Linked DNA regions of Homo sapiens. The protein of the gene in region 5 interacts with the protein of the main gene of each other region in a pairwise test. Each region holds a gene or a part of one and is shown on either strand. Other genes may lie near its edges. The genes, in order: ETS2, CSNK1D, ISY1, ITGAV, TGFBR2, ATXN3 and SERBP1.

Region 1 (4,350 bases), on a different chromosome or scaffold from region 5:
CTGTTGAAAGGAAGGAAGGAAGGAAGGAAGGAAGGAAGGAAGGAAGGAAGGAAGGAAGGAAGGAAGGAAGGAAGGAAGGAAGGAGGGAGGGAGGGAAGGAAGGAAGGAAAGAAAGAGGGAGGGAGGGAGGGGAGGGAGGGAGGGAGGGAGGGAGGGGAGGGAGGGAGGGAGGGAGGGAGGGAAAGAAATAAAATACAGTAGGGATTATTTAGGTTAAAAAAATATAAGAAAATAAGCATGTTTATAGAATTCAGGGAACTAGTCCTCACCTGACTGATTTTAAACACACTGAATTTCAGCATCAACTGTAGACTCAGAATCTCGAAAACACCTAGGATTCAACAGCTAACTTTTTTTAGTTACGGCGTCTGAGGGCCAGGGAAACTCATTTTTAAAGACCCTCATTTCTTCTGAACTTGGACAGGGCTTTTCTACCAAGTTTCTGGTGATCTGTTTATTGGCAAATTGGGCCTGTTTTACCATTCCTCGGGCCTGTGAGTTTGTGTGTATTTGGGTTTCCGGGTGGACGTGCACTTTGTAATATATTCGTAGTAAGTATGCATACACAGTGCACAAACCTTTTCCCTTTCAAAGTTCTTGGGCACATGTGTTCCCCATCCCAGACTCCCACAGCCCTGGAGACTTCCCACACCCTGGGGAAGCGTGCAGGTTTGGAAGCAGTGGAACTGTAAGCTTCACGGGGGCAGACACCATCCATTTTATTAATTTCCTGTATGCAGCCTCTGGTACAGATGGCATTTCATAAATACTTAACTGTTTCTTGAATGCATGAATGAATTCAATACACCATCTGGACCTTTTGCGATAGAAAATTTAGTGTTGCCAATGACATCATTCATTTTGGAAAATTTATTTTAGTAATTGGAAAAATGGGTTGCTTTCTCTCGTTTTTTGAAAAAGACAGGCAGGGACGTGGAGCACCATGAGATTAAATGTGAAGCACTCCGTGCATCTCATCATTCTAAAATTATCATCTCACAGGAATTCAGAAAGTCAATTTGTTCTGTGTAGTTTTCACCTACATCTGCCATCTTACGTCTCCTGTGTCTGCTTTTCAGAAAACCAAGAAAAGACAGAAGATCAATATGAAGAAAATTCACACCTCACCTCCGTTCCTCATTGGATTAACAGCAATACATTAGGTCAGTCCGATTGATTCTGCCCTTAAGAACTTTGTCTTCAGTCTTCCCAGTAGACTTGGAATCTCTCTACTGTAGGCTCCTAAGGGGCCACCTAGACCTGTGTGTCTCTTATGGTGGCCACACGTGGGTGTTGAGCTATAAGCCATTGAAATGTGACTGGTCCACATCGAGATGTGTAGGAAGAGTATAGTCATGCACACCAGATTTGGAAGTCTTAGTATGAAACAGAGAATATAAAATGTCTCCCTGATAATTTTTAATGTATTGATTACATATTGAAATGATAATTGCTATATGAGGCCAAGTAAAATAAGAAAATTAACTTCACCTGTTTCTTTTTGCTTTTTTAATATGGCCACTAGAACTTTCGCAGTTGCTTAAGTGGCTCACACGATCTTCCATAGGTCAGCACTGTTAGTGCTAGTCCAGGCAATTCTTAGAGCAAGGAGCAGAACGAAGTGAGCTGATTACCGCAGTCACCAGTAATGTTGGTTTAGTGTAGCAAACAAGAGGCGGCAGGCACAGAGTGCGTGAAAAGCAATTTGTAAACTGGCTCTGAACTTGGGAGCTTAAAGAGCTGTCATGGAATCTGGGTCCTTTCTTCTGGTTGCTGATACTGGGGAGGGCACAGGGTCTGGCCAGGCCAGCGAGGGAGGGGTCCTCGGAACAGCAGGCTTGGGTGGTGTTGGTCCGGCCCAGTGTTTTCTCTCTGGCCCCAGCTCCACCATTCAGACCCGGTGAAGCCCACCTCTCTGCCCCACTGGGGGCTTCCTGCTCAGGAGGTCTTTCTGAACATGACAGTGGGACACCCTGTGCCTGCCTGAACCTGAATCAGAGTCAGAGAGCTTCCTTCCCTCTCCAGAAAATAAATTATTCTGCAATGAACAGAGACAGGAGCGGTGTGATGAAGGAGCAGAAAGCAGAGTGGGCTGTGCCTCAGCACACAGGGTTCATGGCCTGGTTCTGCCCTTATGAATCACACAGTACATGACACGTCACTTGGTCTGTCTGAGCCTTACTCTCCTCGGAAGCTAAAAGAGCCAGTGAGCCCTGTCTTCCTGAAGGTCCCATGAAAGCACTAGGGTTGTAGAAATAGGAACATTGAGTCCTGCCTGCAGAGGCTGCAGTCATTTTGGCAGAGGGCTGCTGGTTGAGAAGCTGAATGGTTTGAGAAGAAGGCCTGGTGACAGACCCCCACCAAAGCCCGGGTCTCCACTGAGGTTCTGCAGAGGGCTGGAGTGTGCGGAGTGCTCACCTGTCATTTGCTCGTAGGGGTTAGTTACTGGGGTAACACTGACTTTAAGAGCTCTGCCGTCCGATTGTTCTGTTCCAGGTTTTGGCACAGAGCAGGCGCCCTATGGAATGCAGACACAGAATTACCCCAAAGGCGGCCTCCTGGACAGCATGTGTCCGGCCTCCACACCCAGCGTACTCAGCTCTGAGCAGGAGTTTCAGATGTTCCCCAAGTCTCGGCTCAGCTCCGTCAGCGTCACCTACTGCTCTGTCAGTCAGGACTTCCCAGGCAGCAACTTGAATTTGCTCACCAACAATTCTGGTAAGATTGGAAGCATCTTTCAACAAGGCTGTTGCTTTGATTCTGAGAACCCCAGAGCCATAATGAACCTCTTAATAAATACTTCCTGGATTCAGCCATTAGAGAAGGGGGTCAAAGCCCATGTTCTAAGTGGATTTCCAACAAGCATACCCCTAATATGTTTCAGGCACTGGCCCAGGTACTGCAGGCATTGAGTAAACAAAACAGTCCCTGCTCTTACAGCCAGATTTCTCCACACTTTGGGATATTTATGGAGGCGATGCAGGAATGTGACATTTCTTCTTATGGAGATGTAACATAAATACAGTGCACAAGTCTCAGGTCATGTGGCTGGTTGGATTTGTGTATGTATGTATACCCATGTAATAACCATCCAGATGGAGATAGAGAAGTTTCCAGTAGCCTGGAAGATTCCTTCGTACCCCTTCCCATCAATAATGTCCCCCCGACAGAAGGGAACGATTCTGACTTTTATCATTACGGATTAGGTTTTGATTTTCTTGAACTTTACATAGATGGAATCATAAGGCATGTTTTCTTTTGTGTTTGTCTTTTACTCATCATGTCTGGGATTCATGCATGTTGTTGGATGTAGCAGCCATGTGTTCTTTTTCATCGCTGTATAGTATTCCATTATAAGAATTTTATTCATTCTACTGTTGATGGAAGATAGGATTTGTGTAGTATAGTTACCCTAAGGAATAAGCACCTGAGTAGAGAGCATTTTGAGAAGTCTGAGTGGTTCTACACCAGCAGGTGCATGATTGCACTGGTAGTGGTTGGTGATGCTATGGTCGTGCCCAAGACCAACTGTGTCCTGGAGGAATCAAAGTATGTGTTTGGTTGTCTTTGCCAGGGACTCCCAAAGACCACGACTCCCCTGAGAACGGTGCGGACAGCTTCGAGAGCTCAGACTCCCTCCTCCAGTCCTGGAACAGCCAGTCGTCCTTGCTGGATGTGCAACGGGTTCCTTCCTTCGAGAGCTTCGAAGATGACTGCAGCCAGTCTCTCTGCCTCAATAAGCCAACCATGTCTTTCAAGGATTACATCCAAGAGAGGAGTGACCCAGTGGAGCAAGGCAAACCAGTTATACCTGCAGCTGTGCTGGCCGGCTTCACAGGTGTGTGTGGAACTCCGAGAGCCTGGCCGCCCAGTCTCCTGGGTCCTGTCCCTTGCTTCCTTTCGAGCCACAGTACCACATTCACCGAGGGTGTTTCTAAGCTAGGTACACCAGTGCTCTACACTCCATGTTTTATGCGTGGCTTGCTGTATCTCTGAATTCGACAAAAGCCACACTTGGAGGAATTTTCATGTACACAGAGCTCCATGGAATGAGTGAAAATTGACAGGCCACTCCCTCCACCTGGGACGTTCTGAGGAATAGTTGGAGCAGGGGACATGGCCTGTGCAGTCTTCAGCCCTGACTCACCCACTCCAAGAATCTCAAAGAATGTAAACTGGCTTAGGGAGGGGCAGCAGAGCCAGTCTCAAATAATATGGGCACTGTTTACCTTTTCTTGCTTCTAAAATCTATCTGCTCTTATTTTTGAGGTTTGGGTGAGAGCTATTCTAGGCAGTGGACAAATATAAAGCTGTTTTTAGAAACAGGTATTTCCAGTACTTTAGCGAAAA
Region 2 (4,350 bases), on a different chromosome or scaffold from region 5:
GTCTGTTTGGGGTTTTTACTTGGTGAGAAGAAGGCCTTGTCATTCCAACAGTCGATGACTCGCTTTGATCAACTCCTGCCCAGGACTAGGCCTGAGCCCTGTCGTCGTACCGGCGAGGATGTGCGTCTCCCCTGCCTTCAGGCTGTGCCCTGAGACCCAGTTGTGGGGCTGCCCAGCACCTGCCATCCTGCTGGGATCAGGTTTTCTTAGTGCTTGAGAAGACTCAGGAGGGCCTGTCCCATGCCATTGTTGGCCTTAAGAGCAAGTGATTCCAGAAGAGGAGTGGGCACCACTCTCATCCAGAGGCCCGTCCTGAGAGGCAAGTGAGGCTGTGCTCTGTGCCTGGGCTCCCCCAGGTGGCACCTGTCGGTCTGTGGACCTGGTTGAGGCAAGGATGCCCATCTGGACATGGAGCCGACACAGGTAGTCAGGGGGCCAGCGGGACGCTTACCAACAGCTGTCTTTTCCCCACCTCAGAATAGCATTCCTTTCGAACACCACGGCAAGTAGCTGCTCGTCTCCCATCGGAAGGCAGCACTGGGTGAGTGTGCGCGTGGCGGGCGCCAGGCAGCAGCGCCAGGTGGGTGGGAGCCACCATGCCCCACCCATGGGAGCTTGCAGGTGGGCTGGGCTTGCATGCCAGGTGCTGGAGGTAGAGTGAGGCTTCTTCTGCTCTGTTCTTCTTGTGGGGTGCAGAGCGGCGGCAGTCCGCTGCCCAGTCTTGGGGGGAGGCTGTCCACAGAGAGCTTTGGAACAGAGTGACCCCAGGAGACCATCCTGTTGGCCTGTGGCCTCCCCGTGACTGCGTTCCGTGTGCCGTTGCTCTCCTCCTGTCCTGGGTGCCCACCCGTGAGGCAGGAGTGGCAAGGCGGGTGCCCCGAGCACTTGAGTTGCCTTGTCTGCGGTCGGCCGTGCCTGGAGGGGCGTCTGTGTCCTGCTCAGCTGGGTGGCTCCACGCTTGGTGTTGGGGGCTCCTAAGCTCTTGCTGCGCCACACTCTGGGCAGTCTCTGCCATGCCAGCTTTTCTAGTCGCCTCTCTCTTCCTGTCTCATTTATCTCTGTCCTTGTTTTGTGTTTCTTTTCACACTTGGTCTCTGCCCAGCCGTCTTGTCCACGCAGCTTCGTCTGTATTAACTCCTCCAGCCGCAGCCCACTCACTCCCCGCCGTCGGTGCATGGCCGGCGTCCACGCTGTGCTCCCTCCTCGGCGGCCACGCGCGCTCGGCGGCTCCTTCCAGCAGGGGCTTGCGCTTCTGTCGGGTCTGTGCCGCTGGGAGACCCGCTGCAGTTTTCACACTGTGCACACTCTGGAAATGTGTTGACAGGAACTGCTTTTCATGTCTTCCCTGAGAGGGGTACCCATTTTCAAACACCAGGTTCCTTTCCAGGAAGGGAGGCAGGAGCACCCGTCTCCGCTCCACTCGGATCCTTCGACCCTGCCGAGCCCGGCTCCGCGGGCACCTTGCTTGCATGCCTCTTCCTCCTTCCCGTCTTCCTGTCACTCGTTCTGCTGAGCACGTGTCCCAGCCACAGAGGCCCCTGTGCGTGGCGGGGGACGCAGGCGTCTAGACTGGGGCTAGGCGGTGGCGGTGCGTCCCCTCCCTGCCCAGCACCGTCACTGTGGTATCTGCCTGGCCGGCTCCCCCAGCCCCATGCTGACCTTCTCCTGTGCTTTGGCTCCGACAGATTCCTGGTCGGGTGGCTTCCAGTGGTCTTCAGTCTGTCGTGCACCGATGAGAACTCTCCTTATTGCTGTGAAGGGCAGACAATGCATGGCTGATCTACTCTGTTACCAATGGCTTTACTAGTGACACGTCCCCCGGTCTAGGATCGAAATGTTAACACCGGGAGCTCTCCAGGCCACTCACCCAGCGACGCTCGTGGGGGAAACATACTAAACGGACAGACTCCAAGAGCTGCCACCGCTGGGGCTGCACTGCGGCCCCCCACGTGAACTCGGTTGTAACGGGGCTGGGAAGAAAAGCAGAGAGAGAATTGCAGAGAATCAGACTCCTTTTCCAGGGCCTCAGCTCCCTCCAGTGGTGGCCGCCCTGTACTCCCTGACGATTCCACTGTAACTACCAATCTTCTACTTGGTTAAGACAGTTTTGTATCATTTTGCTAAAAATTATTGGCTTAAATCTGTGTAAAGAAAATCTGTCTTTTTATTGTTTCTTGTCTGTTTTTGCAGTCTTACAAAAAAAATGTTGACTAAGGAATTCTGAGACAGGCTGGCTTGGAGTTAGTGTATGAGGTGGAGTCGGGCAGGGAGAAGGTGCAGGTGGATCTCAAGGGTGTGTGCTGTGTTTGTTTTGCAGTGTTTTATTGTCCGCTTTGGAGAGGAGATTTCTCATCAAAAGTCCGTGGTGTGTGTGTGTGCCCGTGTGTGGTGGGACCTCTTCAACCTGATTTTGGCGTCTCACCCTCCCTCCTCCCGTAATTGACATGCCTGCTGTCAGGAACTCTTGAGGCCCTCGGAGAGCAGTTAGGGACCGCAGGCTGCCGCGGGGCAGGGGTGCAGTGGGTGTTACCAGGCAAAGCACTGCGCGCTTCTTCCCCAGGAGGTGGGCAGGCAGCTGAGAGCTTGGAAGCAGAGGCTTTGAGACCCTAGCAGGACAATTGGGAGTCCCAGGATTCAAGGTGGAAGATGCGTTTCTGGTCCCTTGGGAGAGGACTGTGAACCGAGAGGTGGTTACTGTAGTGTTTGTTGCCTTGCTGCCTTTGCACTCAGTCCATTTTCTCAGCACTCAATGCTCCTGTGCGGATTGGCACTCCGTCTGTATGAATGCCTGTGCTTAAAACCAGGAGCGGGGCTGTCCTTGCCACGTGCCAAGACTAGCTCAGAAAAGCCGGCAGGCCAGAAGGACCCACCCTGAGGTGCCAAGGAGCAGGTGACTCTCCCAACCGGACCCAGAACCTTCACGGCCAGAAAGTAGAGTCTGCGCTGTGACCTTCTGTTGGGCGCGTGTCTGTTGGTCAGAAGTGAAGCAGCGTGCGTGGGGCCGAGTCCCACCAGAAGGCAGGTGGCCTCCGTGAGCTGGTGCTGCCCCAGGCTCCATGCTGCTGTGCCCTGAGGTTCCCAGGATGCCTTCTCGCCTCTCACTCCGCAGCACTTGGGCGGTAGCCAGTGGCCATGTGCTCCCAACCCCAATGCGCAGGGCAGTCTGTGTTCGTGGGCACTTCGGCTGGACCCCATCACGATGGACGATGTTCCCTTTGGACTCTAGGGCTTCGAAGGTGTGCACCTTGGTTCTCCCTTCTCCTCCCCAGAGTTCCCCGGATGCCATAACTGGCTGGCGTCCCAGAACACAGTTGTTCACCCCCCCACCAGCTGGCTGGCCGTCTGCCTGAGCCCATGGATGCTTTCTCAATCCTAGGCTGGTTACTGTGTAAGCGTTTTGGAGTACGGGGCCTTGAGCGGGTGGGAGCTGTGTGTTGAAGTACAGAGGGAGGTTGGGGTGGGTCAGAGCCGAGTTAAGAGATTTTCTTTGTTGCTGGACCCCTTCTTGAAGGTAGACGTCCCCCACCCGGAGAGACGTCGCGCTGTGGCCTGAAGTGGCGCAAGCTTGCTTTGTAAATATCTGTGGTCCCGATGTAGTGCCCAGAACGTTTGTGCGAGGCAGCTCTGCGCCCGGGTTCCAGCCCGAGCCTCGCCGGGTCGCGTCTTCGGAGTGCTTGTGACAGTCCTTGCCCAGTATCTAGTCCCCGTCGCCCCGTGCAGGAGACGTAGGTAGGACGTCGTGTCAGCTGTGCACTGACGGCCAGTCTCCGAGCTGTGCGTTTGTATCGCCACTGTATTTGTGTACTTTAACAATCGTGTAAATAATAAATTCATAATGACTTCTACCTTTCTTCCCTCCCCTTTCCATGTGGTCTTTATTTCATCAGCTTGAGAGTTTTCACTGTGTTGAGGTGAACTGTGTGAAAATACTTCTTTGAGATGGCTGTTTGTTCTTTCTCAGCCTGTGGGTGTCTGGGAGCTGGCAGAGCAGGAGAGCTGCCCCCTGGGCCTGCTGCCGGGCAGGGAGGGGTGGCGACTGCTCCTCGCCGTGCTGCCCCCTTGGGCTCTGTTGTGCACACAGAAGTCCACGCACTTTCTGTGTGACGGTTCTGGAGAGTCCCTGCCTTCTCGGGCGGCACCGGCAGCCGCACTCCAGCCGCCTGGGGTGAGCGCATGTCCCTTCCCCCTGCCATAGGGCCGTGGTGCTCAGGGATCCCCCTGTCGCTTGAGCTGTTGAAGCCCAGGAGCTGCCCGATGGCCCTGCACAGGCACAAGGAGATAGGGTTCCTCTTCCCCCCCCCCCCAGAGCACACAGCAGTGGCCCCTATCCAAGGCCTGCGGGGGCTGTCA
Region 3 (4,350 bases), about 98 Mb from region 5:
TGCCATCTGTTCCAAGCCATGAAGTGTGGCAGGGAGGAAACTTGGCTCCCAAATACAGAGTCAGGGTTCACAGCCCAGCTTGCTCACCTGCAGGATGGCTGTGAAAACACTTGCGAGATTACAGGAGGGTTTCAGGAGGCAGCAGCCATGAGAGTGCCCTGCCGGCCGTGCTTTACACCAGGGCTTCCTTCTTTCCTTCTTAAAGACAGGCCCTTCTGCATACACTAGAATTAGACTGATAAACACAGAGGAAGCCATGAGCTTTAGCCCATGACCTCATCACTTCTGTTCACGTGTCAGTGGCAGTTGCTCTTCTGTAGTCTAACACCCCCATCTTTTTTATTTTTTTTGAAACGGAATCTGGCTCTGTTGCCCAGGCTGGAGTGCAGTGGCACAATCTTGGCTCACTGCAACCTCTGCCTTCCGGGTTCAAGCAATTCTTCTGCCTCAACCTCCCAAGTAGCTGGGACTACAGGCGAGTGCCACCACGCATGGCTAATTTTTGTATTTTTAGTAGAGACGGGGTTTCACCATATTGGCCAGGCTGGTCTCGAACTCCTGACCTTGTGATCCACCTGCCTTGGCCTCCCAAAGTGCTGGGATGACAGGTGTGAACCATTGCTCCCAGCCCTAACACCCCTGTCTTACACATGGAAAGAAACGCAGAGCAGAGAAGAAACTTTCTTAGAGGGTCATGGTTGGGGAATCTTTGCATATTTTCAGACCTTTTGCATATTTTCTGATCTTTTGCATATTTTCTGATTTATAGGAAATACTCATTATATATCTTAGTTATTACTTTTTATTATAGCCACCATGTAAGTAATCTTGACATATCTGTCTGTGCTACACCTTTTATTTTTTCTATGAAACATTACCAAAACTTCACTGCATTAAAGGAGGTATTCTGAAACAAGGAAAATTCAACATTTGAAATCTCTGCCTCCCAGGCAGAGCTCTTCTGCGGGGCCCTATATTTGGAGTCCTTGCTGCCTGCACAGGTCTAGGTGGATCTGATTTGCTGGACTGAGAGAAGGGAGGGGATCACCCACACATGGATGATGGCTCAGGTTCCACATGAGGAGCTTGCTGAGACATCACTGGTGAAGAAGCAGGCTCAGGTTTAGTGACTTAATGTCACATGGGATATAACAGGCCTGACGTTCCTGCTCATGTCCAGCTGGGCCAGCACTGGGGTTCAGTGCAGGTCTGAAGCAGGATGGCAGCATGCCTTAGGAGGATTTCCTCTAGGTACAAATATTCATTTGCTCTCTCAGCAGGTGTTTAATTCATGGCTCCTGTGAGCCAGCCGCATTCCAGGTGCAGGGGCATGGTGGTACAGAGGCTTGGAGTGTAGCTCATAGTCCAGGGGGAGGCAGTCCAGTAAGAGAGACAGTGAGCAACAGTCCCTCAATAGAGCCTGGTGCAGGGACAGCCTGCAGACACTCTGCTGGGAAGCTAAACCCTCAGCTGAGATTAGGATGATCCAGCGAACTTAACCAAGGAAGGAGGAGATGAGAGAGGGCTCCCAGCAGGGGCGCATCATGTGCTGAGAGATCCTGTGATGAGTGTGAGAGACAAAGGACAGCCCAGTGTGCTGGAGTGCAGAGAGTGGGTGCTGGGTGTGAGTGGAGGCTGATGGGGAGCTGGCGTTGTGGGGAAGAGCAGTGGAAACCCACAGCAGAATTTTTTTTTCTTTTCAAATAATTATAGAGATACAGGAAGTTGCAAAGAGTACAGAGAGATCTTGTGTATGCTTCACCCAGTTCCCCCCAGTGGTTGTATCTCATGTAGTTCTAGCACAGTAGTAAAACTGGGAGGTTGACATTGGCATATTGAGTGTGTGGAGTTCTGTGTCATTTGTCTCCATGTGTGGAGATCCATGTGGCCATCATGACAATCCAGATACAGAACTGGCCGGGGGTGGTGGTCACACCTGTAATCCTAATACTTTGGGAGGCTGAGGTGGGAGGATTGCTTGAACTCAGGAGTTCAAGACCAGTCTGGCAACACAATGAGGCCCTGTTTCTACCAAAAATAAAAACAATTAGCTAGGTGTGGTTGGACATGCCTATAGTCCCAGCTACTCAGGAGGCTGAGGTGTGAGAATTGCTTGAGCTCAGGGGGTTCAGATTACAGTGAGCTGTGATTGCACCACTGCACTCCAGCCTGGGAACTGTCCCCTTACTACAAAGATCCCTGGTGCCACCCCTTCACAGTTCACACCTCCCTGTCCTCACCATCTCTTCTCCTAGCTGAACCCTAACCTGTTCTCCATCTCTGATTTTGTCATTTCAGAATGTTTTATAAATGGGATCATGCTGTGAGTCACCTTTCACGATGGCCTTGACACTTAACATGATGCCCTTGCCATCCCTCTGGTTGTTGAGTTCAATAGTTCATTCCTTTTCACTGCTGAGTGTTGTTCCATATACAGAAAAGTACACACCTGCTAAATGTGTAGGTCACTGGATTTTCACAGGGTGAACACACACACACATAGCAAATACCAGTGAAGAAACAGAACAGGACCACAGCGCCAGAAGCTCACTACTGCCTCAGGGGTCACCCTCCTGACCTCTTGTGACCCATATATTTCACTTGTGTCTGAACTTTACATATGTGAGTCGTGTGTACTCTTTTGTGTCTAATGTTTGTGGGTATTTGTGTTGTGTCCAGATTGGGGTTTTGGCAGATAGGGTTGCTGGGAATTTTCTTGTTCCCGTGCAGTGTTTCTCTTGAGTACATGCTGAGGAGTGGAACCACCAGATCAGGGTAGGTATGTGTTTAGTGTTAGATACAACCAGTTTCTCCAAGTGCCAGCAGTGGATGAGAGGTTCCTCAAGAGGCTTTTGAAGCCATCCCCACTGGGAGCCAGTCAGGGAATGGGTCGTGCACGGTGTCTGGCAGAGCCCAGCAAACAGTGGACTCCTGACTCGCCACAAGACCCCTTCTCTCTTTCCAAGTCCGTGGTGTTTTCTTTGTTATTAGAAATTTGTATTGACTCATAGGCAACCTCTGAGCTGATTATTTTTCTATGCATGGTACATTCTTTTACATTTAAATTTTTTAAAATAGTGATACATTCACAAGGTTCAAAAGTGAAAAAGAATATAAAGATATTCCACAAAGATTCTCTTTCCTCACCCTGTCCCTCATCTACCTTGGTCTCACTGCCGTCAGTAATTTCTATTCTTATTTCCTCCTTAGACAAAAGGTAGCATAATATACAGCGTGTTCTATGGCTTTTTTTACTTAATCTTGTGGGTCAAGTGTCTTTCTATAAGTATAGAACTTTCTTAGTTTTTTTTTCTTTTAAATAGTTGCAGAGTAGTGTGTTTTATAGAGTTGCCAGCATTTATCTAGCTGGGCGCCTACTGATGGACTTTCGTTTGTTCTGTTTGTAGTCGGACGAGGAAGGCAGCCAGGAGAAAGGAGGGGACGACAGCCAGCAGAAGTTCATTGCTCACGTCCCTGTTCCCTCGCAGCAAGAGGTAGGACCACAGCTAAGAGCTGCCTGGGCGCCGGGGGCTTCTCTAAAGCAGACTTCACAGAGCACTGTAGTGGGTTTTCGTTGTCCTTCCTACCCATCAGGGCAGCTCAGGGTCCTGACCACATGACACCTGTCATTGTGTTCAGGGTGTGGGGTCCAAAAAGGGCAGGACCCTCTGCTCTAGGCCATTCTATCGTTCAAATGTTTCCAATGGGAGGGAGTTAGGACTCTTGGAGACTATTCTGCGTATTTAAATCAGACTCCTTGATGGACTTCTCCCACGGGGACTTCCTCCTGGCTGGGTCTGGCAGGGGTTGAGGGGCTTTGCTGAGGAGTGAGCCCTGCACTCTTAATTTCCACAGATTGAGGAGGCACTGGTGCGAAGGAAGAAAATGGAACTCCTCCAGAAGTATGCAAGCGAGACCCTGCAGGCCCAAAGTGAAGAAGCCAGAAGGCTCCTGGGGTATTAGGACCCAGCTGGGGCTCTCCTTGGAGTTCTTCCATCCCCCAGTGGTACCTCAGGACCCAGGGCTGCAGACACAGGCTGGTGCTGCAAGGGCTCCTGCCCCATTCTCAGCCTTCCTTCCCTCTCCTTGTCTCATGTTGACCGGAGGGTAGGGGTCTGTCCCTGGTCTTCCTGGTAGGTTTTGTACACATATTTTGCTACTGTGTGGATCCATTTATTTTTATTGTGGAGTGTATACAACAGGTTGCGAACTGGCTGCCTGTGTCTTATTTTGACTTGCACTGCCATTTTGAGGGGAGAAGAATCAATTAGTGGCAAACATTTAAAAATGCAATTTTTTGCAGACCAAAGTATAATTTTAAAAAATGCAAATTTTCTAAAAGACACATCT
Region 4 (4,350 bases), on a different chromosome or scaffold from region 5:
ATAAAGTAAAATTGAACTTGGGTTTGGTTGCATATAATATTTTGAAATATTCATCAGCAACTTTGTTACCGATAGACTACAGAGCTCTAGGTATAGGTAACTTAAAAAATGGAAACCAACCTTGAATTTTTTTCTTTTTTCTTTTTAAACAAAACGTATATAAACACAGGTTTTTACTTACTGAGCTTTTCAGATTTAACAAAAATTTATGTAAAATTTTGCTGAATTTTCTAGAAGGGCACTTTAAATTTAACAAGCATTGGAATCCAAGGTACTTGGGATGCCATTTCCAATATTACCAGTTGGATTTATTGTTATTTGGTATTACCATAAACTTTTAAAAGAAAAAAAGCCACATAATGAAAAAGTATTTGTCAATTCAAGAGCGCCTTTCTTCTGAGGGGAGAAGGATTTGTGAGGAGCAGTGGTTGTGACGTCCACTCCTGTTGCTTTTTCCAGTTTTGGTGTCCACATACCTTGGGGAAGCTGTAGAATTATTTTATGCCTAATTTTTCTCTTTATAGAAAATTATTATTGAATTATCTGCATAGTTCATAGTTTTGTTGTGAAAATTAATGAATCAATATTTATTAAAGGGAAGGACAAAGTACTAAGCAAAATGTTAAGGCGGCCCCTCAAAAAATCACTCCAGAAATGAGTCAGGTTCGAAGTAAAAATTCACAAATATAGTGATTTTCAAAATTATGAAAAAACATTCGCATTCTGTTTTTTTTTCTATAAGCATTTATTTATGCTATGTTGTAAAACTTACATAAAATTTAAAGATTGTATGCAGGCTAATAATTAGAGTCATACTTTTCTTGTGGAGACTAATTGGAAAAATTAAAAATTACATCCTAGGTTTAATTATAATGATGACATCTTATTTTGGTAAACATATTTTATAATTTGCTAAGCACTTATATCTCATTTCATTCTATAGCCCACACCACCGGGGGGAAGTAAGGGGAAGCAGATATACTCATTCTTACAGATGAGGAGGAAATGGAGGCAGAACCGTTTGCAGTCTAGTTATTTGAGTAGGTTGGTGTGAGTAGAGGGTAAGGAAGGGAAGGATCCGAAGACAGGGTGTAAAATTCAAATCCCACTTTTATTAATTCAAATATTGAATTTTTAAAGAAAATAACTGAACAATTTTAAAATTCATTCTTCAAATATATGTTATACAGTTCTCATTTTATGTATTTCTTTATTTTAAAATAATGCTATAATGAATGACACTGGATTCTTGCCTTTCCCCCCATTAAACGCTAATGGAGCCTTATCTTACAGTTGGCAATGTGTAGATGTGTATGCCTTAGAAGCAGAAGGTCCTTCAATGGTTCTCAGTCCTAACTTCATGTTTGCAATATCTGGAAAGCCTTTTAAATAAAACTCTTGCCCTGGCTGTATCTTAAATCTAAAAGTAGATCTCTGACTTGATATTCCAGTGGCCTGGCCTGTGAATCATTTCTCGTTGACTAGCCTGTCTTAACTCAATTTGACTAAAAAGTCTTCACCAAGAGATGTTAGTTGCACCTCTGTTTCTATTAATGCTGGCATCATTTTCTCTGTCACCTTGGAAATACTTTCATATTCCTCCCTCTCATGTTCTATTTTTCTGTGTTTCTCCTACTTCACCACCTTAATATCAGTCAGTGATTAGTCAACAGGCAGAAGCTCCTAGAAATTCTTCCTTTTTAAGGTTTTCTTGATTCCATCTCTGCTTTCTACTCCTTATTTCAGTGTAGTTATGACAAGCATAGTCAGTGGCACTCAGGTCCTCCCCCATCCCTCTGCCCATCATTTGGCTCTTAAACGTGCAGAACATCTTGTCTGTTTCTATTCATTTTATCTTTCTGTAACATCCTTTTTCATCCTGGTATTCTGTTGCAAAAATTTTCATAATAAAGCTTCCATTGCCAGCAAGAAAGTCCAAACCGCTTAACATGGATTAAGGTCACTTGCAATCTGTCCCAACCTGTGTGTATTTTTAAAACTTCATGTACCATTTCTACTCTTACCATTTTAACCCTTTTCACAACACTTTACAAAATGATGCCAGCTCATTTTTTATAAACTTCAGAGTAGCTCTGATTATATTGGCTGATTTTTCTCATCATAAATAATATACATGTATATTAGGGGACATAAAACTAGGCTATAATTTTGTTATTTAGAAAGCAAATCCTATATTACTTCTGATTAAGGACATATGATGTTTCATAGAGCATTATGAAAGACAAGGGAAAATATGTGGAAATTGTAGTTACTGCTTCTGTTTTACAGTAGTTGTTGACTGGCATTTTTGTTTTTCTTTTGATTCAAAAAAGCATTTTTTAAAAAATGAAAAGTAAATCTGAAACTGGAATTGTAGCTTTGAAATAACATTCAGTACTATTTCATACACATTTATTTCTATATACATGTATGATAGTTTTTCAGAAGTTCCTTTTGGTGAAGGCTCATTGGTCAACTCAGAGTCAGCTAAATATATTAAACATGCTTTATCTTAGAAAGGTCAGTGCTGAAAGCAGACAAACAAGTTAGTTTATTTGGAGGGTTTGAAAAATGGACTTGTCATTGTTTGGCAGGTTGCCCCTCCTTGGTTGTCAAGGTCACATTCCGTGAATCAACTGCCCTTCAAGTACAGTTTGGATAGGGAGTGCATCCAAAGGCCATCCTCCTGATTGGTTCCTCTGAGCCTCTTGTCTGTCTCCCTCTCACTGCCTCCTCTGATACCTCTCCCTCTGTATCGCTCTCTCTTTTTTCTTTTTCTGTCTCTTGTCCTTCCTCTCTTTTTCCTTTCCTCTATCTCTTTTCTTCCTTTCCATCCATCTTTCTGTCCTCTCTCCCAAACTCAATCCTTTATATTTTAGCACTTCTTGGCATGGATGTAAACCTTAATTTTGAAGTCCCAGAGAGTTATTTAATGGCAGTGTTTCCAGTCATTAAAAAAAAAAATGTTGAGGATGGGGATTCTGATGATGTTCTTGGACATACTTTTTGGAGGGAAATGGAGTCTATCAGGAGAGAGTTGCGGGCATAGGAAATTAAGTCACTCAGCTTCAGATTTACACTGCTAATCAGTGAAAACTCTTGTCAACCTTACCTCACCCTGTGTATTCTCCCCACCTCGCCACCATTGATAAGAAATGTTTAAGCTGGCTTTTCTACCCTTCTTTCTCTTTTTCTTCTTCATTTGAGTTAATCACTTGACCATTAATGGCCCTTTGAAAACACTGAGGAAAGAAAAGCCCTTTTAAAGACAGAATTTAAGTTTTACATTTTCTACTCTTCTAGGGAATAACTTATTAATGGCATCAATTGTTTTCAGGACGAAGATGATAATTAAATCCCATCATCTTGTATTTTCGTGGTGTTTCAGATTTTCTAAGTTTGCATTTATTTATTATCACCTTCAGAAAGTTTCTTTTTAAAGTAATTACAGTGGGCATTGTTATTGCCATTCGATAGAAGGGAACAGAGATTCAAAGTTACTGCTTCAATTGATTTGCAGTGTTTGTAAATTTTAATTCCAAACTGTTTCCATTAGATAGTGCTGCTTAGATCACAAACATTTTTTTTCTGGTCTGTCAGTTCTCTTACCCTAATTAAGCTGTTGTACACTTTCATTAGTCATTCTTAGATGAAATTCAAGTAACAATTATTTTTATGGAGTGTTTTATTAACTTTGTTTTTTGTAGTATGTGTTGCTTTTTTTTTTTTTTTGAGATGGAGTCTTGCTCTGTTGCCCAGGCTAGAGTGCAGTGGCACAATCTTGGCTTGCTGCAACCTTCGCCTCCTGGATTCAAGCAATTTCTGGCTAACTTTTGTATTTTTAGTAGAGATGGGGTTTCACCATGTTGGCCAGGCTGGTTTTGAACCCCTGACCTTAAGTGATCCTCCTGCCTTGGCCTCCCAAAGTGCTAGGATTACAGGCATGAGCCACCGTGCCTGGCCTGTGTTGCTTTTTATTCCTTAATTTTTTTATATAGCATCTTTTATCACCTTGTACCCAGTTTTCTATGCAAGTATTTCTTTTTCACTACACAGCTTCCTCGTAAGACTTTAACATATGTCTAAGGTCATTTTACTTTCTCTATCTCTTCATTGTTCTCTTTAAAAAACTTAAATATCTTAATGATAACTTTAATATCGAGATGGCATTTTGGATGAAAAACTTCATCAGCTTTTTTCCCTCACAAATTTAGCATGTAGATATTGACACATTCCTTTTATATTATTCTGCCATTTCTGTAGCATTTCACCAGTATGCAAGTCTGCACATGAAGGTATGCTTAGGAAAACTTAATGAACATCCATTTGTACACCTGATTACCATCATTT
Region 5 (4,350 bases):
CCAGTGTAAGAATTTATGTTTTTAAGGATCAATCACCAAATTTTCTCACTTTCCCTATACTTTTAAAATGCATTCATATATCTTTCCAAAAAATGGTGATTTTTTTTTTCCCTCTTGGTTGCTGGAATTCTGATATCTTGGGGTTACTTCTCTGGTTACTAGACCCAAGATTTTCATCTAGAATATATAGTCAGTGGAAGTTGGCATTTCCACTCAGACTTACCTTAAGAACAAGTAATCATATTACACATAAACCTTAAAAATGGATATGTACCAGCTTCATTTCTCACTGTTTCGTTAGATGAAAGTTTCAGATGCTGGGCCAAGCGCAGTGGCTCACGCCTGTAATCCCAGCACTTTTGGAGGCCAAGGCGGGCAGATCACAAGGTCAGGAGTTCAAGACCAGCCTGGCCAACATGGTGAAACCCCGTCTCCACTAAAAATACAAAAAAAAAAAAAAAAAAAAAAAAAAAAAAAGCTGGGCATAGAGGCTAAGGCAGGAGAATGGCTTGAACCCAGGAGGCAAGGTTGCAGTGAGCAGAGATCGTGCCATTGCACTGCTGCCTGGGTAACAGAGCAAGACTCCATCTCGAGAAAAAAAAAAGAAAGTATCAGATGCTGAAGTAGCTATGTAGACTGGGGTATATAACCTGGGGTTCATCATCATGAGCCAGGAAAATTTAGGATATGAACACACATGAGGAGTTTAGGAGTGGAGGTTTAATAGGCAGAAGAGAAGAGAAAGAGAAACAATTCTCTCTGTAGAGAAAGGAGTCTCCAAGCGGAAAGGACGGGCCAGTGGTGAATGTGCTGGATTTTATAGTCCCGTTTGAAGAGGCGGTGTCTGATTTACATAGGGCTCACAGATTGGTTCAATCAGGTATGACGTTTACATAGTGCATGGGGAAGACTGGTCACCCCACCCTAATCTTATTATGCAAATGGGCTTTCCAGTTGATCAGCACCATCTGGTCTGTTCTTTGTTGTACACATGGCTGACAAAGAGAAGGGAAGATGGAGCTGCCATCTTGAACATGTCCTTAGTTCCTGCTGGCATTCACCCGTGCAAGCTCCCAGCTTGCCTGTCTATGTCTGAAGCTCAACTTTACAGGCTGCTCTTTGTTAGAAAATGATTTGGGGCTGCTTTTCATTAAAAAGAAACACCTTACCGAGGACTTCCATACCCTTACTATCTGCCCAAGTAATTTCTTCTTAACTCCTTTATCAGTATCATTTAGGTAATGGGTTCCCCTTGAGAGAATTTGGTTATATCCTCATTCTACCTGGACTATATTCTCATCACTTTTTTTTTTCTCTTTAAACACCTACTGTAGGTGAAAACTGACAAATGAATAATCAAAAGATCCTTTTCTGACACGGAGTTTGGTTCCATACCACCTACCCATTTTTTTCCTTTCTATTCCGCAGGTGCAGAGTGGTCAGTATGGGATAATTGCTCTTCCTTAAGTAGATCATATATTCTTTCTCCTTAACATAGCACTCTTTCCACTCATCACTGACTTTTCCCATTCTTCAGAGACCAACTTAAAGGCAGTTTTTTGCTACTGTGCCTTCCATGTTTCTCTAAGCTTTTCCACATTCCACTAATATATAGATTACATTGTACATTTAGCCCCTATCCCAGATGCCATATATTGCTTACTTGTATATATGCCCTAAGTCCTCTACTGGGTACTCTCTGAGGGCAGTGCCATGCCCATCATAGACACTCAGTAGTGATATATTTAATGAATGATTCTAGGATCTGAGCATGAGGCCTGCTCATTAATGGGTACTTTGGAGGGCAGATGGATGACACATAAAGCAATAGAATTCTGCATGTTTGCCCAATGAAAGCAGCCCAGCACAAGCTCCCAGTGAACTAGAGCTGCCTTTTGCTCTCTCCTGTCCACTGTCTGTTTCTATTCATGTCCTTCTTCCAAAAAGGAAAACTATTTCACCAGAGCCAACAAGGCCAGCACATGAAACAAAGTTTGAGGCACAAGATATTATAGTTAGATATCTGGTGCTAAGGACTCTCCTTGTCAGCCCACAGGGGCCTGCTTCAGAATTCCAAGTCAAAAAACTGCAGCATTTCCATTTTTAACTTGTTTTACCTTTGCGGCCATGTTTCCATTGTTGCTATTAAATATTTCAGTTCCATGAAACTACAATTCGTATGCACACTGAAAAGAGGAATGTTGGGTGGATGTAAGATAACTGTCCAAAGAGATCCTTTCCATGGACTCCTCTCCCTGTCACCCATGGGCCCAGGGTAGCCTGAATGCTGATCAGAGCAGAACAAGTTGGAGTTTGAAAAAGAGCAAAGATTTTGGTGCAAACTGTGGCACGCTCTGTGTTTTTACCAGATGTCATACATGCAGATTTTTTGAAGGCAGAAGCTGTGTCATTTTTTTTCATGTTCCCAATGTCCTGAGCTTAGATAACACTCAGTAAATGGTTTGTCTTTTTATTTGGCAATATTGAGGACCTGCTGTGTGCTAAGTGCAGTTTACAGTAGTGAAGAAGACATGGTACCTTCCAGCATGGAGTTCCCTGTCCGTGGGGGATGGCAAGAGTAGGGAAAGACAGATGTGAAATCAAGAGGTAGAGTCATAGTTCATTTAGTTTAAGTTGTACTGAATTGTTACCTAGGAAAAGTATAAGGTGCTATGAAAATGTATAAAATAAGACAGTTTTCCAAGTTTTTCTAGGCCTCTCTTAAGCAGTGACATTTAAGCTGAAGTTTGAAGGAAGAGCAGGGGATGACGAACAGATGGCCAGAGGCAGGGAAGGCTGAACGAGCATGCACTTGCATCCCTGAAATAAAAATTAACAATATCGTATCTACAAAAACTATGCAGATGCTAAAATCTATAGATGCTCAGGCATGAACCCACTTCCTGACAGTACTTACCTACCACATCCAACTCCTTCTCTCCTTGTTTTGTTTCCCCATCAGAATATAACACCAGCAATCCTGACTTGTTGCTAGTCATATTTCAAGTGACAGGCATCAGCCTCCTGCCACCACTGGGAGTTGCCATATCTGTCATCATCATCTTCTACTGCTACCGCGTTAACCGGCAGCAGAAGCTGAGTTCAACCTGGGAAACCGGCAAGACGCGGAAGCTCATGGAGTTCAGCGAGCACTGTGCCATCATCCTGGAAGATGACCGCTCTGACATCAGCTCCACGTGTGCCAACAACATCAACCACAACACAGAGCTGCTGCCCATTGAGCTGGACACCCTGGTGGGGAAAGGTCGCTTTGCTGAGGTCTATAAGGCCAAGCTGAAGCAGAACACTTCAGAGCAGTTTGAGACAGTGGCAGTCAAGATCTTTCCCTATGAGGAGTATGCCTCTTGGAAGACAGAGAAGGACATCTTCTCAGACATCAATCTGAAGCATGAGAACATACTCCAGTTCCTGACGGCTGAGGAGCGGAAGACGGAGTTGGGGAAACAATACTGGCTGATCACCGCCTTCCACGCCAAGGGCAACCTACAGGAGTACCTGACGCGGCATGTCATCAGCTGGGAGGACCTGCGCAAGCTGGGCAGCTCCCTCGCCCGGGGGATTGCTCACCTCCACAGTGATCACACTCCATGTGGGAGGCCCAAGATGCCCATCGTGCACAGGGACCTCAAGAGCTCCAATATCCTCGTGAAGAACGACCTAACCTGCTGCCTGTGTGACTTTGGGCTTTCCCTGCGTCTGGACCCTACTCTGTCTGTGGATGACCTGGCTAACAGTGGGCAGGTAAGTTAGAGCTAGTGCTAGATCCCCTTTACCTTGAGCCTGGCCTCACCCTACCTCTTGATCCATATCTCCTGGCTCTTATCTCAAACAGCCCTGTACTCTGGACACTGGTCTAGGGAATCTAGCCAAAGTATGGAGTCTGCCTTGAGCATACTCTGCTCTGTCCTGCCTGAGCATTTTTGCTAATGGACAGCATTTCTCCTCCTATCTTCAAATCCTTCCCAGTTCAGCACATTTTTTCCTCCTGGATCAATCCTCATTTCTCTTCCAGCAAATGTTTTTTCTTTGTTTCAAGCACTGTTAGTACTTTACCTCTATTTTTTCCCTCTCTTATGGTTGTACTCAGTCCTTTCTGCTCTATACTAGCTGTAGTTGTGTTGGTTTCTTTGTATTAAAAGCATCGTGGAAGGCAATCTCCCTGAAGTCCAAATCTACATCCACATGGTCACCCAAGATATGTAGCACAATGCCTTGAACATTGAAAGTAAAATAAGTACTTGTCGACTGAGTGAGCACTTCCACTCTTGAAGCACTCTCACAGATTAAAATGGAAATGTTTTTGGCTAAGAAACTATTGGAAGGTGATTG
Region 6 (3,500 bases), on a different chromosome or scaffold from region 5:
GCGGATCACAAGGTCAAGAGATCAAGACCATCCTGGCTAACATGGTGAAACCCTGTCTCTACTAAAAATACAAAAAAATAGCTGGGTGTGGCGGCGTGCGCCTGTAGTCCCAGCTACTCGGGAGGCTGAGGCAGGAGGATGGCATGAACCCGGGAGGCGGAGCTTGCAGTGAGCCGAGATCGCGCCACTGCACTCCAGCCTGGGCGACAGAGCAATACTCTGTCTAAAAAAAAAAAAAAAAAAAAAAAAAGAGTATTTAGCAGAGGCCAGGTGCAGTGGCTCATGTTTGTAATCCCAGAACTTTGGGAGGCTGAGGCGGGCGGATCATTTGAGGTCAGGAGTTTGAGACCAGCCTGGCCAATGTGGCAAATGTGCTGTCTCTAACTAAAAATACAAAAATTAGCTGGGTGTGGTGGTGCAGACCTGTAGTCCCAGCTACTTGGGAGGCTGAGGCAGGAGAATCACTTGAACCTGGGAGGCAGAGGTTGCAGTGATCCGAGATCATGCCACTGCACTCCAGCCTGGGTTACAGAGTGAGACTCTTCTCAAAAAAAAAAAAAAGTATTTAATAGTGATAAATCTGCAGTATTCTCTTGTAGTTTTTAAGATCATATTATTCAGTCAAAGAAAAGAGCTCAACTTGAAATATTTCCAGAGTTTAAACAATCTTACTAAGCTTTGATGGGTTGTATCTATTCTTAACATGTGAAACTTCCTTATTACCTATAATATACACTAACTTAAATATTGACAATTTTTTTCCAGTGGTTTAACTTGAATTCTCTCTTGACGGGTCCAGAATTAATATCAGATACATATCTTGCACTTTTCTTGGCTCAATTACAACAGGAAGGTAAGTAACGGCTGAACATTTTGTAATGTTACCTTTCGAAGTAGTTAAATAACCAGGCACATTAGATGACAGTGTGATAAAACTGTTTTTCTGGCAGTGGCAGTGAAACAATCTTTAGTTTTGACGTGGTGATAGGCTGTGATTTGGGTGACGCTGTTCAGTTAGAGTTCTCACTGACACCTGGCCCTTCCTCTTCTGAGGATGCTGCTTTCTTTGCAGCCCTTCTAAGTAATGGCTTTTTCTTTTATACATCACATATCACACGGCTGAGAGGAGGGATAGATGTTTTTCTTCTTTGCCTCTTCTAGGCCACTGTTCTTCCTTATAAACTCCAGTTTCTTTGAAATACATGCCCCTAACGGCTGGGCACGGTGGCTCACGCCTGTAATCCCAGCACTTTGGGAGGCTGAGGCAGGCGGATCACGATGTCAGGAGATCGAGACCATCCTGGCTAACACGGTGAAATCCTGTCTCTACTAAAAATAACAAAAAATTAGCCGGGGTGTGGTGGCGGACGCCTGTAGTCCGAGCTACTCGGGAGGCTGAGGCAGGAGAATGGCGTGAACCCAGGAGGCGGAGCTTGCAGTGAGCTGAGATCGCGCCACTGCCCTCCAGCCTGGGCGACAGAGCGAGACTCCGTCTCAAAAAAAAAAAGAAAAGAAAAAAAAAAGAAATACATGCCCCTAGATTAAACTATCCCTTGTCCTTTTGCACTCATCCACAAGTCTCTTTTCATCAGTGATTTTAGGATCTGACTCGTTGTCTTTTTCTCTACTTCAACTACTTTTATCATTCTTAATTATTTCTGTATCGTCAATCAATCCAGTACCTGCCTCTTAGTTTCAAAATCACTTACTCTTGCTTAGCTATTACCAGTAATCATAACCACTGTCAAATCTCAATTGCAAGCATATTACTCTTTAACTACCACCTCCTATCTTTAAACCATGTTTTGTCTGTTTTTTTATTCCAGCCATTCTTTAAACCCTACTGTGGGGCCCAAGCATTTCCTTTATACGCATTCTTCCTTTCTTCTACTGCTTATTTTCTGTAATCCGTCATCATAATCACTCCATTGCATTCTTCAACGTGTTTCCCCTCTCTCCCTCCATCATACTTGAATGACAAAAATCTCAACCCTGGTTAAACCACATCTTGGCCTTGTCCATTCCTGTACCAGAGTAGCTGGACGTGGCTAAAAAATAACATAAAACATGATGATTGGTTTTACTTTTTTCTTAAATGATCTATCCATCCATTCACCCATCCATCTATCAAAGTGACTAGGCCTATTTCTGAAGCCCAGGCTGGAGTGCAGCAGCATAATCACAGCTCATTGCAGCTCCAAACTCCTGGGCTCAAGTGATTCTCTTGCCTTAGCCTGTTGAGTAGCTGGGACTACAGGCTTGTGCTACCACACCTAGCTAAGGTTTTACTTTAAATTTATTATAATCACAAAATTCAGATGAGCCTTTAGTGCTGTCTGATATTTCTACTATGTTTTCTTAGTGATGTACCACCCTCCAAGGTGTTTATAAAAAATTATGTACCACTCTCCAAGAAGTTTATAAAAAATAATGTGCCACCCTCCAAGGTGACTAATTTCACAGCTTATGTCTTTAAACCTTTAAGCACTTTCCTCTCCCTTACACACCTTCCTTGTGGCTTTCCGTTACATTCTGCTGAGAACATAGAAGCAATTAAAATTATGTTCTTTCTACCAGCAAATTTATCAATTTGCTTATATCTTCACCTGTGCTTTGAGCCTATTTAAATAGATGAATGGTCCCCTACCTCTAACCAAAACCAGTCCCTCACTTGTGGGCTGGATCCCAGCTCTTCTCACCTACTCAAGATGTTCCTGCTTTCATCTCTCCACTCTCTTATATAATCAGTTCCCCCCCCCTTTTTTTGTAATATTCCTATAAGCAGTAAAATAAGCTTTTTATTTCCATTGATTAAAAATAAAAATCCTCTCTTAATTCCATGAAACTCCAGCTGCCTCCCCATTTTTATTTTTTCCTTAGGATTGTCTCTAGTGTGCCTTCTCCTTTTCTTGAACTCTGCCTCCTGGGTTCAAGCGATTCTCCTGCCTCAACCTCCCGAGTAGCTGGGATTACAGGCGTGCACCACCATGACCGGCTAATTTTTTTTTTTTTTTTTTGAGATGGAGTTTCCCTCTTGTTGCTCCGGCTGGAGTGCAATGGCGTGATCTCGGCTCACCGTAACTTCTGCCTCCTGGGTTCAAGCGATTTTCTTGCCTCAGCCTCCCGAGTAGCTGGATTTACAGGCATGTGCCACCATGCCTGGCTAATTTTGTATTTTAGTAGAGATGGAAGGGGTTTCTCCATGTTTGTTAGGCTGGTCTCCAACTCCTGACCTCAGGTGAGCCGCCCACCTCGGCCCCCTAAAGTGCTGGGATTACAGGCATGAGCCACTGCGCCTGGCCCCGGCTAAATTTTTTTTTTTTTTTTTTGTATTTTTAGTAGAGACAGGGTTTCACCATATTGGCCAGGTTGGTCTCGAATTCCTGGCCTCGAGTGATCCACCTGCCTCAGCCTCCCAAAGTGCTGGGATTACAGGCGTGAGTCACCTTGCCTAGCCATCTTTTAGTAATGGTATTTGGAGATCACAATTTGAGTGCTGG
Region 7 (4,350 bases), on a different chromosome or scaffold from region 5:
ATTTGAAGAACTTGAGAATTGACAGCAGAATGTCATTGAGAGTGTAGACCAGGGATTTTCTAAAAAAGAATGAATGCCTTGAAACTAGTGCAGTTAGTGAGCTTGCAAGTTATAGATAAGTATATCAAAAGAAGCTTGCATTTTTAAATGTCAGTCTTTTTCATTAGGTAGGTTTAATACGTTTTTAAGATTCTGTAAACTTGATATTGGGTGGGGACGCCAACTATTGTTCACTTGGGTGTGTTTGGCTTGGATATTATTGCAAGGACTGGTTCCATAACTCCACCCCAGTGCACTTTATTACTGATGACATTTATTTAAATACCTTGGTGTAAGGTCTAATATTTGTAGTCTATCTTGAGTATTTACAGGGAATGAACTTCAAAATTCTATTGAAGAGATTGATAGTTACTGTTTGGCTCCAGTTAACAGGCAGCAGAACAACTGGGTGTGTCTTGATGGTGTTCTACTTTCTTAGAAAGAACCAAAGTGAAGCAGCTTAAAATCTTGTAAAACCAATTCCTCAGCTGCTTTATGACTTTGTCAGAAATTGGGAATTAGAGCATACCAACAATCTTAAAGTCATTAATTTAACCATCAATCTGTTGATCCTTATGGGCACCAATAATTTAAATTGGTTGCCTTTGTGGGGTTTCAGACATTACAGGAAAAAAGTAGTAAAGGGGGAAATTAGTAAATGCTTCAGCTATCACTTAGTGTCACAAGTTTTCTTATTTCTTACATGTTGCTTAAAAGCGGTCTTAACGTGTGTGTATTTGGTTTTTAAAGATTCTTTGAAAATAAAGATAGTTGTTAGGGCAAATTTTTTAGAGGACTCTCTCCATGCATAATAAGTAACTGTTTCCTAACTTGGAAGTACTTAGGGATGTGGGAGTGTGTACAAACATATATACACTTACATGCTATAAAATTTTAAACTTTAATAGGGGAAGATGGCCCTTTTTGTGTGCCTGTAGCTAAGAAGACCAAAAGATGACACTTTTTCTGGTTAAATGGCTGTTTTAAACTGAAGTGATGTTCTCTAATAATCCTAAATGCCATATTTTCCTTTCAGATTTGTAATTTTATAGAATTATGAGTCTTAATTGCATTTTTTTTTCAGATTAGATAGAATAACATAGTGCGGCCCTCACTTTTGTGAGGGGCCATATCTAGTGAGTGTGTTGATTTGCTTGGTTATTTATGAATGGCTGCTGGTATTTTCTTTGGTATTTTAAAAGCCAAAATGTATTGCTTGCCTAAAATTTTTTAAATTTAAAAGTTTTTATTAAGAGACTATCTTGGAAAGTGACGGGAATAATGGTTGCCCAAATGATTTCCAAGTCAGTTATAGAAAATGCTTTTGAGGGGGAGAACTTGGCAAACTTAAATAGAAGTTTAAAATAAGTTTATTGTTTTTATTTTATTTATTTATGTATTTAGTCGGTGGTATGGATTGGAAGGTTTATTGTCTTTAAATGGCAGTTTTCCTAAGGTACTTTGTTACACATTAGAGTTGCCCAGTGTTTGCTTTTTTCCAACAGGAAATGGTAGTGGATTGGAAGAGAAGCAGCTTTTGACAGTCCAGGCCTAAAGTTTTTGGATTGCAAAAATAATTTGCTTATGCAGGTTATCTTATCGTTTTAGGAATAAGACGAGTTGGAAGAAGACCTGATCAACAACTTCAGGGTGAAGGGAAAATAATTGATAGAAGACCAGAAAGGCGACCACCTCGTGAACGAAGATTCGAAAAGCCACTTGAAGAAAAGGGTGAAGGAGGCGAATTTTCAGTTGATAGGTAAGTTGTTTCTTGTTTTTGAGCCAGGGTCTTGGTCTAACATGTAGGCTGGAGTGCAGTGGTACAAGCTTGGCTCACTGCAGCCTCTGCTTCCTGGGCTCAAATGATCCTCTCATCTCAGTCTCCTCTTGAGTAGCTCGGACTACAAGGTCACGCCACCACACTGCTAATTTTTTTTGTAGAGCTGAGGTCTCACTATATATATTGCATTGGCTGGTCTTGAGCTCCTGTGCTCAAGCTGTCCTCCTGCAATATTGGGATTACAGGCGTAAACCAAAGAAGTCTTCATATTTTGTTACTTTATAGAGTCACATTTTAATGTTAAGCTATAAATTGGGCATAATTGCCAGGTAGCAGTCTGGCTAATTGTTTCTATTAATTTTTCACAGAAACATCTGTATGTGTGCATTGTTAAGCTTTAGATCTTTGGGTAACAGTTCAAACTTAGGTCTCTTGTAATGGAAACACTTTGTTGAATTGATAACCAATTTCTTTTTCTTTCTCTCTCCAGATACAGAGTTAAAAGGAAAATACTGTTAGTTGAAGGAAAATACTGTTGGTTTATTGTTTATAGCAAATAAATTACTTATGCAAGTTAGATGTGTTTAATTTTTAAGTGTATTGGTAAATAGTGATGGACTGGATTATATGTGCAATGAATAGCAGTGGAAAAGTATATGCACTGGTAGTAATGCTTTAGAGTGCTAAAATAGTTTTCTTGTTTTGGGAGGCTGTCTTGTTCTGGTTTCCTTTGTGTTTAGAAACAGACTATTTTGAATTTTCTGAAGTGTATGTATTTAACTATTGGTTTTTGAGCCAGTAAACATGTTCTGTATTTTTGATCTTTTGGATGAATTTTCCTCATTTCTTCTGGAAACCATGGAAGTATAATTTATTTGTTTATATTATAGACCGATTATTGACCGACCTATTCGAGGTCGTGGTGGTCTTGGAAGAGGTCGAGGGGGCCGTGGACGTGGAATGGGCCGAGGAGATGGATTTGATTCTCGTGGCAAACGTGAATTTGATAGGCATAGTGGAAGTGATAGATCGTAAGTCTTACTGGTTTTTATTTTACTTTAATATTTTAATCTATTTAATAAACAAACTTTGAATTTCTAGAACTAAAGAGTATTATGTTAACTCAGTTTTGTTAGTTCTTTTTCACATTACAGTGGCCTGAAGCACGAGGACAAACGTGGAGGTAGCGGATCTCACAACTGGGGAACTGTCAAAGACGAATTAACGTTGGTATTCTGATTTTCTTAAAAATTCTATACCTAACTAGAGGTTAATCCATACCTCTGTCAAATTTTACTTGTCTCTGAGATAAGAATGAATGCTCTCTTCTGAGAGTTACTATATTACAAGATAATGTCTTATGGGATGGGTTTGGGTTATAGTATATTGAATGACCGGTTTTTTAATATTTCGATATATTTGTTACTCATTTTTTCCCCCCCATATGTATTTGTAGCTTTTCCTGAAACCCCACAATAAGGTTATTTGGGTATTCTGATTATCTTAGTGTCCTTAATAGTTCCTATTCTAGCTTTTGACTTTGTTGTCATTACAAAATTTGATAAGCTAGTAAAGCTTCATTTTATAATTAACTGCCTTGTTCTGTTACTTTTTAAGTATGAAGTATATGAACTAACTAGTTTATATTGTTTACTTTTCGACGTCTTCTGGGGAGTATATTTAGTAAGAAAGGAGTTAGAGAATGTGAGAGCTTATGGTATTTTTGTATGAAGAACTTTTCAGCTACATGTAAATGGACCTAGATGCCTTTCTTTTTCTTTCTTTCCTTAGAGAGTCCCCCAAATACATTCAGAAACAAATATCTTATAATTACAGTGACTTGGATCAATCAAATGTGACTGAGGAAACACCTGAAGGTGAAGAACATCATCCAGTGGCAGACACTGAAAATAAGTAAGTGGTATTGCGTGTAATAGTAATGACCCAGAATTGAAAGCACTGGAGTTTTACCAATAAGATAACCCATAGATTTAATGCTGTTACTTGATGGCTTTTTGTTTTTGACAAGGGAGACTTACTGTACCCTCATCCCTCAAAGAGTATTTGAAAGAATGCTTTTTTTTTCTTTTTTTAATAGAGACAGGGTCTCACTATATTGCCTAGGCAGGTCTCCAATTCCTGGGCTCAAGCGTTCCTCCTGCCTTGGCCTCCCAAAGTGCTGGGATTACAGGCATGAGCCACTGCACCCAGCCCTTAAAAGAGTGGTTTATGTGTATATATTTGACTCTAACGCTTTGAAAAATAGAATATTTTAATGTGGTTATTTCTGTTTGATTAGTCATTTTACCATTGTCATACAACTGTACAAATTTTACTTTGAGATAGTTAAAACTAGAAAATGTGGCCATTTTAACATTAGTTCTATCTTGAAGTTATTTCCAATGTAGAATTTGGAACATAGCATTACTGGCCTGTTTTTAAATGTATGAAGAGAGCAAAGATCAGAGTATGTTATTCACTATCTTTTTTTTTTTTTTTCTTTTTTTGAGACAAGATTTCATTCTGTTGCC

Evidence for each region.
Region 1: the proteins of TGFBR2 (region 5) and ETS2 interact in binary tests that used the Homo sapiens proteins (3 or more experiments, as listed by UniProt).
Region 2: the proteins of TGFBR2 (region 5) and CSNK1D interact in binary tests that used the Homo sapiens proteins (3 or more experiments, as listed by UniProt).
Region 3: the proteins of TGFBR2 (region 5) and ISY1 interact in binary tests that used the Homo sapiens proteins (3 or more experiments, as listed by UniProt).
Region 4: the proteins of TGFBR2 (region 5) and ITGAV interact in binary tests that used the Homo sapiens proteins (3 or more experiments, as listed by UniProt).
Region 6: the proteins of TGFBR2 (region 5) and ATXN3 interact in binary tests that used the Homo sapiens proteins (3 or more experiments, as listed by UniProt).
Region 7: the proteins of TGFBR2 (region 5) and SERBP1 interact in binary tests that used the Homo sapiens proteins (3 or more experiments, as listed by UniProt).

The regions. Positions count from the first base shown.
Region 1 is NC_000021.9:38,815,929-38,820,278, forward strand, and holds part of ETS2 (protein C-ets-2), read left to right. Parts: intron 1-1,079; coding exon 1,080-1,163; intron 1,164-2,496; coding exon 2,497-2,718; intron 2,719-3,574; coding exon 3,575-3,838; intron 3,839-4,350. UniProt on the Homo sapiens protein: Transcription factor activating transcription. Binds specifically the DNA GGAA/T core motif (Ets-binding site or EBS) in gene promoters and stimulates transcription.
Region 2 is NC_000017.11:82,242,167-82,246,516, reverse strand, and holds the end of CSNK1D (casein kinase I isoform delta), read left to right. Parts: exon of another isoform or gene 1-45; intron 46-51; coding exon of another isoform or gene 52-153; exon of another isoform or gene 154-319; intron 320-477; coding exon of another isoform or gene 478-510; exon of another isoform or gene 511-541; intron 542-1,685; coding exon 1,686-1,736; 3' UTR 1,737-3,850; downstream 3,851-4,350. UniProt on the Homo sapiens protein: Essential serine/threonine-protein kinase that regulates diverse cellular growth and survival processes including Wnt signaling, DNA repair and circadian rhythms. It can phosphorylate a large number of proteins.
Region 3 is NC_000003.12:129,129,694-129,134,043, reverse strand, and holds part of ISY1 (pre-mRNA-splicing factor ISY1 homolog), read left to right. Parts: intron 1-3,407; coding exon 3,408-3,494; intron 3,495-3,855; coding exon 3,856-3,963; 3' UTR 3,964-4,350. Other genes in the region: ISY1-RAB43 protein, read left to right, coding at 3,408-3,494, 3,856-3,956. UniProt on the Homo sapiens protein: Component of the spliceosome C complex required for the selective processing of microRNAs during embryonic stem cell differentiation. Required for the biogenesis of all miRNAs from the pri-miR-17-92 primary transcript except miR-92a.
Region 4 is NC_000002.12:186,592,736-186,597,085, forward strand, and holds part of ITGAV (integrin alpha-V isoform 1 preproprotein), read left to right. Parts: intron 1-4,350.
Region 5 is NC_000003.12:30,668,676-30,673,025, forward strand, and holds part of TGFBR2 (TGF-beta receptor type-2 isoform B precursor), read left to right. Parts: intron 1-2,962; coding exon 2,963-3,762; intron 3,763-4,350. UniProt on the Homo sapiens protein: Transmembrane serine/threonine kinase forming with the TGF-beta type I serine/threonine kinase receptor, TGFBR1, the non-promiscuous receptor for the TGF-beta cytokines TGFB1, TGFB2 and TGFB3.
Region 6 is NC_000014.9:92,086,083-92,089,582, reverse strand, and holds part of ATXN3 (ataxin-3 reference isoform), read left to right. Parts: intron 1-765; coding exon 766-853; intron 854-3,500. UniProt on the Homo sapiens protein: Deubiquitinating enzyme involved in protein homeostasis maintenance, transcription, cytoskeleton regulation, myogenesis and degradation of misfolded chaperone substrates.
Region 7 is NC_000001.11:67,423,583-67,427,932, reverse strand, and holds part of SERBP1 (SERPINE1 mRNA-binding protein 1), read left to right. Parts: intron 1-1,647; coding exon 1,648-1,798; intron 1,799-2,709; coding exon 2,710-2,850; intron 2,851-2,955; coding exon 2,956-3,045; intron 3,046-3,610; coding exon of another isoform or gene 3,611-3,655; coding exon 3,656-3,733; intron 3,734-4,350. UniProt on the Homo sapiens protein: Ribosome-binding protein that promotes ribosome hibernation, a process during which ribosomes are stabilized in an inactive state and preserved from proteasomal degradation.